Regions from separate parts of the Homo sapiens genome. Here region 2 is linked to region 1. The links come from fine-mapping of genetic effects on gene expression. A gene starts in region 1. The other region holds a variant in brackets. All regions are shown on one strand. Distances are from middle to middle.

Evidence for each region. PIP is the estimated chance that this variant, and not a neighbour inherited with it, causes the effect.
Region 2: its variant is fine-mapped to the expression of LINC02016 in lung (TOPMed, PIP above 0.99).

The regions. Positions count from the first base shown.
Region 1 is chr3:127,387,718-127,393,086 of GRCh38, reverse strand. It overlaps LINC02016 (long intergenic non-protein coding RNA 2016), which reads left to right and starts at 2,417. Exons shown (of 5, transcript NR_110147.1): 1 at 2,417-2,641. LOC105374094 (a long non-coding RNA gene) reads left to right here and starts at 4,189. Exons shown (of 3, transcript XR_924459.3): 1 at 4,189-4,678. RefSeq lists an enhancer at 584-1,395.
Region 2 is chr3:127,444,895-127,450,263 of GRCh38, reverse strand. No RefSeq gene overlaps it. Among named protein-coding and RNA genes, the nearest start is that of LINC02016, 57 kb to the right of the region's middle. The variant C/G (reference allele first, on the strand shown) is at 2,710.

The sequences.
Region 1 (5,369 bases):
AGCTACAAAACCCATCAATCCCAGTCATTTGTAAGAAGAGAAGGTGGGACAGGAGATCTTGTCATGGTTGTCTTTGGACAACTCCTCTGCACAGGTGAGGAGGGAGGAAGACACATCTCTGGGTCCCCAGGAGTGGCCAGCACAGAGTCAGCCCCAGCCATGCCCAGGGAATTCTCTGCCCCTTCCCCATGTTGGGGGAAATCACAAATTCTTCCTCAGTGAAGAAAGTTTACACCCCCATAGCATCTGAGGGTCAAAGGTGCCTTCCAGGAACCCGATTTGTCCTCCCTAGCTCCCTCTGGGACCCATTCTCTGCAGCCCTGGGGAGTGGAGCCTGCATGGTCTCCTGAGCATCACTGCAGTGTTGCTCTTCCTACCTCCAGGGAGATCCTGAGAGAGCCCGAGTGTGCCCGGTGTGGATCTCAGCCCCACTGCTTTGGAGCTGGGAGACTCTAACACACAACTTAACCCGAGTCTCCATTTCTGCACTTGCAAAATGGTGATAATAATCCCCTCTTCTTAGAGCCGCGGCCAGGATCGATGGAGATAATAGATGAGAAAATACTTGGCTGGGGCAAAAGTGCAGTCTCGGCAAGAGTGTTCTTCCCCAGCACCCCTCCCATCTGATGCAGGACTTAATGAGAGCTGGCTGCTCCCTGGGATCTTTAATTAATTGTCCCAGCCCCACAGCCCCAGTGCTAGCAGATTAAACCCAGCCACGGTGGGGAGTAGGCTGCGGACAGCTTTGGATGCAAATGCCTGAAGCGAAGGATTTCTGCCTGTGAAATGGCTGAGTGGGTGATTTTAGAGCAGCTGCGCCCGGGGCTGCCCCCAGGGAGATGAGCCTCCGAGCCCTCAGCAGAATCAGTGCAGCCAGAGGGTGCCCTTTTCTTACCAACTCATCTCCGGTGCCTGTGGGGTGGGAACCTCGGCCTGCCAGCTCCAGCCCCAGCCCCAGCCCCAGCCCCAGCTCCAGCGTGCCTTGGCCAGCCCCAGAAACAGGAGGGAGGATGCAGGCAGATCAGTTCCACAGTGACCTAGAGGTAACCATCCAGGTGCCCTCCAGGTTCCCCAGCTGTTTCGTTCCCGAGGCGGTGCTCCGCCCGCCCTCTGCCCTCCAGCTCCTCCTGCATCAGACCTCGGCCTAGCCTTTGCTGTCCCCATGGCTTGGGATACTGTTTCCTGGCTGTCACAGCAGGGCTGTGTCCTCTGCAGCCTCCAGGGCTCCATGTGAGTGTCTGTCCTCGAGGGACATCCTTCTGGACACCCCCAGGCTGCTCTCTGCCTCGCCTGCACAGCTCCTGCAGCAGAGCCTGGAAAGCTCCCTCTGACTTGGTGTTTTGTCACCTCGCCCGCTGGTTATCAGCCCCATGGAAGCCTGGTGTCGGTGCCTGGGACCAGCTACAGGGGCTCTCAGGAGGGCCTGGACCGGGTCTGGGGCAGGGAGGGAGGAGCAGGAGCAGGCAGAGGAGACACCGAGCTTCACTGCTGGCACAAGGACAGCCAGGACTCCCTTTGGGCCTGGGACTGGAGTAGACCAGAGCTGTCCTGAGCAGGGGGTTGTCCAGGCCTGTGTGGCTCAGTCATAGGACATGGGCCTGGGGAGGATGGCACAGGGGTGCTGTCTGTCTGCAACTGGGGGTGATGCTGAGCACGTCTGGTTACAGCCCCTAGCAGCTGGGCAGTGTATCCTTCCATGAAGCAGGTCTGAGGCACATCCCTGCATCTGCCACAGAGGTAAGTGCCTTCACCTCTAAGTAGACAAAGCACTTGTAACACAGTGGGCGCTTAGTTACTCTTTGGCTGGCTGTACAGGATCTAGTCCCTACTAAGCACCCCAATTCTGATAACTTTTGGTTGTCCATGTCTGAGTCCCTGTTCTGCAGGAAACGGCACCCACACTATGGAGCCCAGGGTCCTGTGCTGGGAGCTTCCCGCAGCCTCTGTGCCTCCTCCTCCCCACTGGCCAGGGGGTCCCACTGTGTCTATTATGGATGAAGAGGTGAAGGTGTGGGCCCCAGGACGTGGTGCTCCAACCTCTGTGCTCACTGCCATGCTCAGCATGGCTCCCTGGGAGCCTGACCCTGAGGTGTGGCATGGACGAACCCTGGGCTGGGCTTCCTCCCTTTGCCCCTGGCCTTTACCCAGCACGAGCACCTCTGGGAAACACCCCAACCCCCAGGACAGTCTGAGTTCCTGCACCCTTCAGCCCGGGCTTGCCTGAAGATGGCTGTGTCTTTCAGCACCTGCATCTTCAGTGACTCCCCAGACTCCCCGCAGTCCCCACTCCCCACCTCCCTGGGCCCACGGTATGCAGCCACACCCAAGGCAGCCCAAGTCCCAGTAGCAACACCACACATTCCCAGAACGCTTACGCTGGGCCAAATTCAGCCTGTGCCTCTCCACAGCCAATCCTGCACTTGCCGGCCCCTAACTCTGTAGCTGCACACAGGGCCTGGGCACTTGAGACCTCAGACTCGCCACCGGCTCCTCAGAGCCCCTGCCCAGGTCACCTGTGTAAGGAGAACACAGTGCCAATGCAGCACAGCATAGTGACACCCGGCCTGCCGGGATTTAGCCCCCACCCTACCTAGCGGTTCTGGAGCTGCCACTGTGACCCATGCAGGGTCGAGCATCCCAGGTGAGTGCAGAGCCCCTGACCCGGGGATGTCACTGCTCTGTGGGACTGTCAATAGTGATACAGGAATAGAATCAAGGGACATAGGGGCAGCTCTGCCAGCACAAACCATCAGTAGCATCCAGCTTGGGGTTGCACAGCATCAGAAAAGCCTTCCTGGAGGAGGTGGAGTCTGAGCTGCCTCTTTAGGGTAAGTCTTTTAACAAGAAGAGGACCAAAAGGGTGGGCTACGCTGGGGGTGCAGAGGTGTGGGCTGTTTTCAGAACACCTGGGCTTGGGGTGAGCTGTGGGGGTGGGAGGTCAGGCTGTGGAGATGTGGCTGCTGCTGGGGCCCCTGTGCCTGCTGATGGGGTGTCTCTGGTACCTGGAACCAGGTGGAGCAGGTGGGAGTGGCCTGACGGGGTTAATGCCCACCTGGTCTCCCCAAAAGCCTTTGGAATCCTCACTCAGGGTCCAAGGACACCCTTCAAGCTGGCCCTGCCCATTCCTCCAGGCTCCCACCAGGGCTCCCCCACATCTGTGTTCCCCAGACACTCTGGCCTTCTTTCAGGCCCTCCCAGCCACTGCTGGGCCTTAGCACTTCTAGAACGTTCTCCTCTGCTCCCCTGCACCCCACTACCAAGTCTTTGTCCAGTTAACTGCATCACATTCTTTGGGTTTGAGCGTCATCTGCACTGGCTCAGGAAGCCCTTCCTGGCCCCAGATGGGATGACCCTGCCCTGTCCCCTCTCCCGAGGGGCTTGCACATCTTGGTGCTCTCACGGTGGTATGCCCTGTGACTCTTAGAGTTCCTGGCGCACTGTAGGGACTCAGGAAATACTTGCCATGCGAGCGGAAGAGTGAATGGATGGATGAGTCACCATTCTTGTGGTGACCTGAGGGCTAGCTGGATCCCAGGCCAGACAGAGAGCCCAGGAGAGTGGGGTCTGGGTCTCCTCGCCTTCATTGTGTCCTTGGCTCCTACCAGGCATCCGGAGTCTAGCGGGCACTCAATAAGTATGTGATGAGATCGTATTTTGGTGTGTTAAAAATTATTTTTTTGTCTATCCTAATTCCTCTTTGACTAGTAGTTATTCCCCTATTAAAACCTGACCATGGGCTGGGCGCGGTGGCTCATGCCTGTAATCCCAGCACTTTGGGAGGCTGAGGCGGGCGGATCATGAGGTCAGGAGATCGAGACCTTCCTGGCTAACACGGTGAAACCTCGTCTCTACTAAAAATACAAAAAGTTAGCTGGGTGTGGTGGCGGGTGCCTGTAGTCCCAGCTACTTGGGAGGCTGAGGCAGGAGAATGGCATGAACCTGGGAAGCGGAGATTGCGGTGAGCCGAGATCGCGCCACTGCACTCCAGCCTGGGCAACAGAGCGAGACTCCGTCTCAAAAAAAAAAACAAAAAAAACTTGACCATGAGACATCCGGTGGCCTTATGGAGGAAAGTTACTGCAGGTGAACAAGAGTTAGAGTCTTAGTTTTTCCATTTCAGGAGTCAATGCTTTTAATTTGCAAGAGCCTGGTGTGCCCCTATCAAATGCCCTGAGGGTCTCAAAGCTTCTCAGAGACGTGAAGGAGCAGGTGTGGAGCCAGTGACAGCTTCTCCCTCTCAGGAGGAAACAGAGTCTCTGGGGCTGGAGAAGCAGGAGGGGGTACGTCAGTTAGCTTTCATGGCATAGCAAGCCTTCCCAAAACCCAGGGGCCAAAGGCAGCACAACCGACAGTAATTTTTTCATTGTTCTGTGGGTTGCCCGGGGAGTTCTGGTCTCCGTGGGCTCAGCTGGGGCTGGATCATTGTGGCAGCCTCGCTCACATGTCTGGGTGGCCGCTGAGAGGCCCGGGGCTGGGTGCCAGTCTTCTATCCTCAAGAAGCCCAGCCCAGGCTTCTTCCCTGGGCAGTCAAGGAGGGCTGTAAAGCCAGGCTCTTTTCCAGTCTCTTCTTGCATCATTTGCTAGCGTCCCCTTGGCCAGGCCCAGGCTGGGGGGTAGAAGGAAGGAGCCCCTACTCTCCTGACGGGAGAAGCAGAGCACACGGTCATCTTGCAAGGGGGTGAGCATAGGGGAGTAAAGACATTTGTGACCTTTTTATTTGCAACTCACCACAGGGAGAGGAGGAGGATTTGAGTGAGACAGACCTGTGTCCTGCGAAGGCTCTATGCCCTGCCAGCGTCTTCTGGGTGGAGCTGGGGAGCAGGGATGGTAGAAGCCGGGGGATGAGTTGGGGGATCCAGAGAGATGGCTGTCTTTGTAGCATTTTCTGGAAGACAACATGGCTCAGGAGTGGCAGACAAGGCGGGGTGGAAGGGATACAGAACACCAGGGAACGGACACAGTGGGTATTACTACTGGACCCCAGTGTGGGGTGAACAAGACAGAGAGCTATCTGGGGACCTAGGCCTGGAGACAAGAGGGCCAGCAGAGAGCCCAGGAGAAACCAGGGAGGGCAAACGAAGATGCAAAATGGGACACTCCCAGGTCCCCAGGGGCAGGGGAAGCACAGGCAGGGGTCCAAAACCCGTTTGCACTGCAAGTGCTAGCTGGGTGGGTGACATTGCTGGGTGGATGACACTGTCGGGTGGGTGACACTGTCGGGGGGATGACACCACCAGGTAGATGACACTGGTGGGTGGGTGACACTGGCGGGGGGATGACACTGGTGGGTGGGATGACACTGACAAGCAAGTGACACTGGCAGGTGGGTGGCACTGGGAGGGGGTGACACTGGCAGGTGGGTGACACTG
Region 2 (5,369 bases), 57 kb before region 1:
TTTTCCACTGCAGCTCCTTGGGACCACATTCTTTCCCTTGAGTACTGAAGTCGTCGATGACAACTTCAGTATGACAACAATGGTGGGAATTTCAGGCTAAAAAGGAAGAAGACAGCATGCCAGAGAGGCCTTGGGATGCGTGGGTGATGATGTCCCCAGGACAAGCTTGCCAGGTTGCAATTTTTATCCATGTTTCTATACATAATGAAACAGGCTCATAGAGGGTCAGCCATTTGCCCCAGATCACGCAGCTGGTAGGTGCCAGTGCTGAGGCCAGGGCCGAGATCACTCTAGAGCCTGTGTTAGGAGCTGGCTACTTACCTGTGCCAGCAGGTTAATGGGAGTGGAAAGTGATTCTCTAGTCCTTCCCTCCCTCCCTGCTCCCTCAGCCTACCCCTGTTCCATCTTTTTTCCAACTAGGTTTCGATCCCCTGGCCACACTTCCTTCTGTTTTCACTTTGGGTCTGCACTTTCTCTTTTACTTTGGGAAGGAAACAGCTCCCAATTTCTCTCCCTCTTGCTGAATCGATAGCTTAGCTGGGCAAGGCAGAACATGAAATTTACATTCAATGGTTTCCATGGCAACCACCGTGCTGGACCAGTTTCTCCTGCTCTTGGGGGCACAGTCTTTTGAGAAGAGCCAGGTATCAAAAACTCAGCTCCCTGAGAATGTGGCAAGGGTTTTAAACAGAACTAGAGAGGGCTTGAGTCCCCTTGACCATCAATTTTTCTGGCTGTGTGTTACATGAGGGAAGGGAGAAGAGCCCTCCATTTCCCCAATATATCAAGGAGCAAATTGCTGGTAGCATCATCCCTCAGCCTCATCACAGCTAACACTTTGTGAGCTCTGACTACGTGCCAGGCTTTGTGCTGAATGCTAAAGCATTCTTTTCTTTCATCTTTGCTTCAAACTTAAGAGGTAGGTACTATTGTTATCCTGTTCCGCAGATGAGGAAATTGAGCCAAGGGAATATTATACACCTTACTTTAATGTCTCAAAGAGTCACAGCCTCCAGGATGGACCCTAGATTGGCTTGACTCCGGAAACTGTGGTCTTAATTATGCTGTAATGGAATCACACTGGGGACTCAGAGGTGAACAAACTCCCTTCCTGCTTTGCTGAGGTCTACAGAAAGGGCTGTAGCATCAAGGCTGAGAGCACAGGTCTGCAGCCAGGCAGCCTGGGTGCCTTTCCATATCTTGGGTGTGCCTCAGTTTTTTCCCTCTGAACTAGAGATTAGGCATAGTATCCATCTCTCAGGCGTGTTGTATGGATTAGGTGAGATAAAGCCCACAAAGCACTGGGGTGGTGCCTGGCACATGGTCAGTACTCCATAACAGTAACCACCATGTTTGCCACTGGGGTAGGAGGCGGACCAGTGGGAGTCAGCCATTCACATGGTGTCAGTGTGTCCTGGAGAGCCAGGGAGAAGCACTGGACTGTGACAGCTCAAAGGAGACAGCAGGCAAGGTCTGGGGGTCAGAGAGGCTTCCTGGAGAAGGTACAGGGAAGGCAAGGAGAGGAAGAGGAACATTTGAGGCAGAGAGATTGGCAGAGAGTAAGGAGGGAGCGTGGTACATTTGGGCAAAGACTAGCGTGGGATGGGGCTGAGACTCCGGGTGTGTGGAAGGGGCATTGTCATTCCTGCCTCCTCAGTACCTATTTCTCTTCTTAATTTTCTTTTAGGAACCCACTCTCTCTCATCCACAGTCTATGTGATTGGGGAAGGTCTGGCTCCGCCCCCTGGGTCCACGTATGGGCATATGACTGAGCCCTAGCCAATGAGAGACTTGCATCTCTCTGGCTGCATGGACACATGACTCAAGCAGAGCCAATCACAATTAATGCATGCTATGCCTGAGACTTTTGCTGGAGCTATGGGGGTGGCTTAGCTGGTAGAATGAAAGCTTCAAGCCGCAGGGCAGTGGGGGCTGTATTTTCACCTTGAGGAGAGAGCCTGCCTGAGAATGAGGCCAACAGTAGAGGGAGGTGTAGCTCAGAAGTGGCAAAAGATGAATTCCTGGCACTGTTCCTGGATCCAGCTGTGCCAGAAGTCCCAAGGCCTTTCTGGCACAGTAGCCAATAGATCACTTCCCTTTTATTTATGCCTGTGTGAGATGAGATTATGCTTTTTACCATAGCAAGAGCCCTCCTTAACGCTAGGGGAGTGACGAGCAATGGGCTGAGGGGAAGGCAGGAGAGCCAGGTCATGAAATCTTAGATGGCATACTGAAGAGCTGAAAGGTGGTGGGGAGGCTTGATTATAAGAAAACGGTTGATAGGATCGGGCTTTCGCAGGATCCTCTGACAGCAGCGGACCAAAATGACTTGCAATAGAGCTCTGGCAAGAGGCTGGTGTGGTAGGCCAGGTGGGAGAAGATGCGTCTGACCTAATGCAGAATGTGTTAGTTTCCTAGGCTGCTATAGCAAATTGCCACAAACTCCACGCTTAAAACAACACCAGCTTATTGCCTTATAGCTCTGCAGGTCGGAAGTCTGAAATGGGCCTCACTGGACTAGAATCAAGGTGTTGGCCAAGTCGCCTTCCTTTGTGGTAACTCTAGGGGAGAATCTGTTTTCATAGCTTTTCCAGCTTCTAGAGGCCACTTGCATTTCTTGGCTTGTGGCCTCTTTTCCGTCTTCAAATCTCATTACTCCAGCCTCTGCTTCCGTCATCACATCTCTTCTCCCTGATTCTGATCTTCCTG[C/G]CTCCCTCTTATAAGGACCCTTGTGGTTGCATTGAGGCCACCTGGATAACCCAGGATAAGCTCTTCATTTCAAAATCCCTGACTTAATCACATCTGCAAAATCTTGTTCGCACGTAAGTTGGTATATTCTCAGGTTCCAGGGATTAGGACACAGACATCTTTCAGCTGTTTGTTTTTTAGAGATGGGGTCTCACTCTGTCATCCAGGCTGGAGTGCAGTGGTGCAATCATAGCTCCCTGTATCCTCAAATTCCCAAGCTCAAGGGATCCTCTTGCCTCATCCTCCCTAGTAGCTGGGACTACAGGCATGCAATACCATGCCTGGTGAATATTTTTAAAACCATTTTTAGAGATGGGGCCTCACTGTGTTGCCCAGGCTGGTCTCTAGCTCCTGGCCTCAAGCGATCCTCCTGCCTCAGCCTTCCAAGTAGCTGATATTACAGACATGCACCACCACTCCAGTGTGGGCATGGACAACTTTGGTGGCTATTATTTAGCCAGTGGGGATGGAGGAGAGCTATGGATAAGAGATACAAGAAGGAGTCAGAGTGCCTGAACTTGGTGGGTGTGGGTGGTGAGGGAGTGCCTACAATTCCCAGGGCATGCATGGTGGCACCAGTCCCCCGCGTGGTCTGATGCTTTCCAACAGTGTCCCACAGTCTGGCACAGGCACAGAGCAGGCAGGCAGATGAATCCATTGAGGCTGGAGTTCTTGCCAGATGGGAGGTACAATGGCAGGATGATAGGGCAAGAGCGAGGGGGGTGGTTGAATCATGGATCCTGGAATGTAAGAGGGAAAGAGAGAAAGAGACACTTTCCTCTAACAGGTAAGAAAGTAGACCTGTCAACAGGAGAAGGAACTCACCTTTGCGGGTGACTGCTGCACACCTGGCCCTTGCTGTACCCTGGGCCTGTGTCCACTCTAGTCCATGACCCTGCCTCCTGCCGATGTGACAAGCACTTGAAGGTCAGTTGGGAGCCTCAAACTCAACAGGTCCCAAACCAAGCCCCTGACCTCTCCCCATCCTGCTTCTTCTGCAGCCTTTCCCATCATTCTTCCTTCTGACTGCTTAGGCCAAAAACCTGGTGTTATTCTTGGCTCTTTGTCTCTTATGATCCCCCACCCAGAGCTTGTCATCTCCACCTTCAAAATATTAGCAGAATCAGACCACTTCTGCTCCTTCACTCTGGACCAAGTGACATTATGTCTTGCCTGGACTGTTGTGAAAGCTCCTGAGGCATCTCCTTGCCCCTCAGTCTATTCCCTAAGCCCCATACCGATTCTCACCTTATTCGGAGTAGAATTCAGTCCCAACATTGGCCCTCAGGGCTCGACATGTTTAGGCACCTGTCGCTGCATGACTGGCTCTTGCCTCTCCTCCCACTCCTGACTCCACCCTGGCCACTGTGACTTCTTCCCTTTCCACAGGTATGTAGCCCCACCCTGCCTCAGGGCCTTGCATCCTGCTGTTCCCTCTGCCTGGGACCATCTTCTCCCAGATACTCACATAACCTGCTTCTTCACTTCACTCAGGCATTTGCTCAAGCTTACCTTCTCAGTGAAGCCTTCTCTGGGCATCCAATTTAAAAAGATAACACCACCTCCATCCCTGCATAAGGGAACGGCTCCGCCTTGGCGCCCTGCATGCAGCCACAGGGCCACGCAGCAAAGGTTCCCACCCTTGAACCACAGCCTAACCCAGCTTGGCACGACACCCTGCAGTCCTCCTGGAACACCGGAGGATGGAGGCCTCTCCCCTGGGAGGCAGTGCTGAGGCAGCTCCGCAGTGCCTCCTGGGTCCCCAGCAGAATAGAGCTGTGGAATTCAAAGCCACTTAACTGCAGTCAAGCTGTGTCAGGTTCCTCGGTGATGGGGTGTCCCACAACTCAGACCCAACTCGGACTGTGGTCGTCCAGGCCCTTGGCTTTGGTGGCATCATTTTAGGTGTGCAGGACAGGGACCCTGGACATGACACTGTCCCTGACTCTTCCTTTCATTGTCCATGCAGGTCACACACTGTCAGAATCTAAAAGTGGCTCGTTGTGTCTGCTCTGGCTGGGTCAGTCAGGGCCAGCCTGGTCTTGCTGCAAGTGCTTAACCACCACTCTTTGCTATGTTGTGTATTTTAATTATCATGTTCTGTTGTTTCTCCCTCCGTGAGGACAAGGGTTTTGTCTCCTTTTACGTGGTTCATGCCCAGTTCCCAGTCCTGGGGCTGATACACGGCAGGTACTCAGCAACTATTGAATGAATGAAGATGAGCCATCCTCAGGCCTTTTGTACATAAAGAAATCGAGGCACAGAAAGGTCACACAGCCAGTCATTGGCGCAGGTGGGATTTGAACCCAGGCAGTCCAGCTCCAGAGCCCACCCCTACGATTCACAGCTTCCCATTGGGGGAGAGTTTCTGCAAAGGGGAGGAATAGGTATGGTGGAGCTTGGATGAAAGCAATCAGGGAGAACTGGTATTTGGTTGGAGATCCAGTAGGTTTCTGGTGCTGACCCTAAAGGTGTGGCTGAGGGCCTGGGAGGCTGGGATGGAGTGGAGGATTGAGATCCTGAGAGCCCAGGGTGCTGGACTTGGCATGGGTCGTCCACTTGGTCACTGGGTCGTCAGGTGGAAGGGCTGGGGTAGGGAGGAGGCCTGCAGGCTAGGCCAG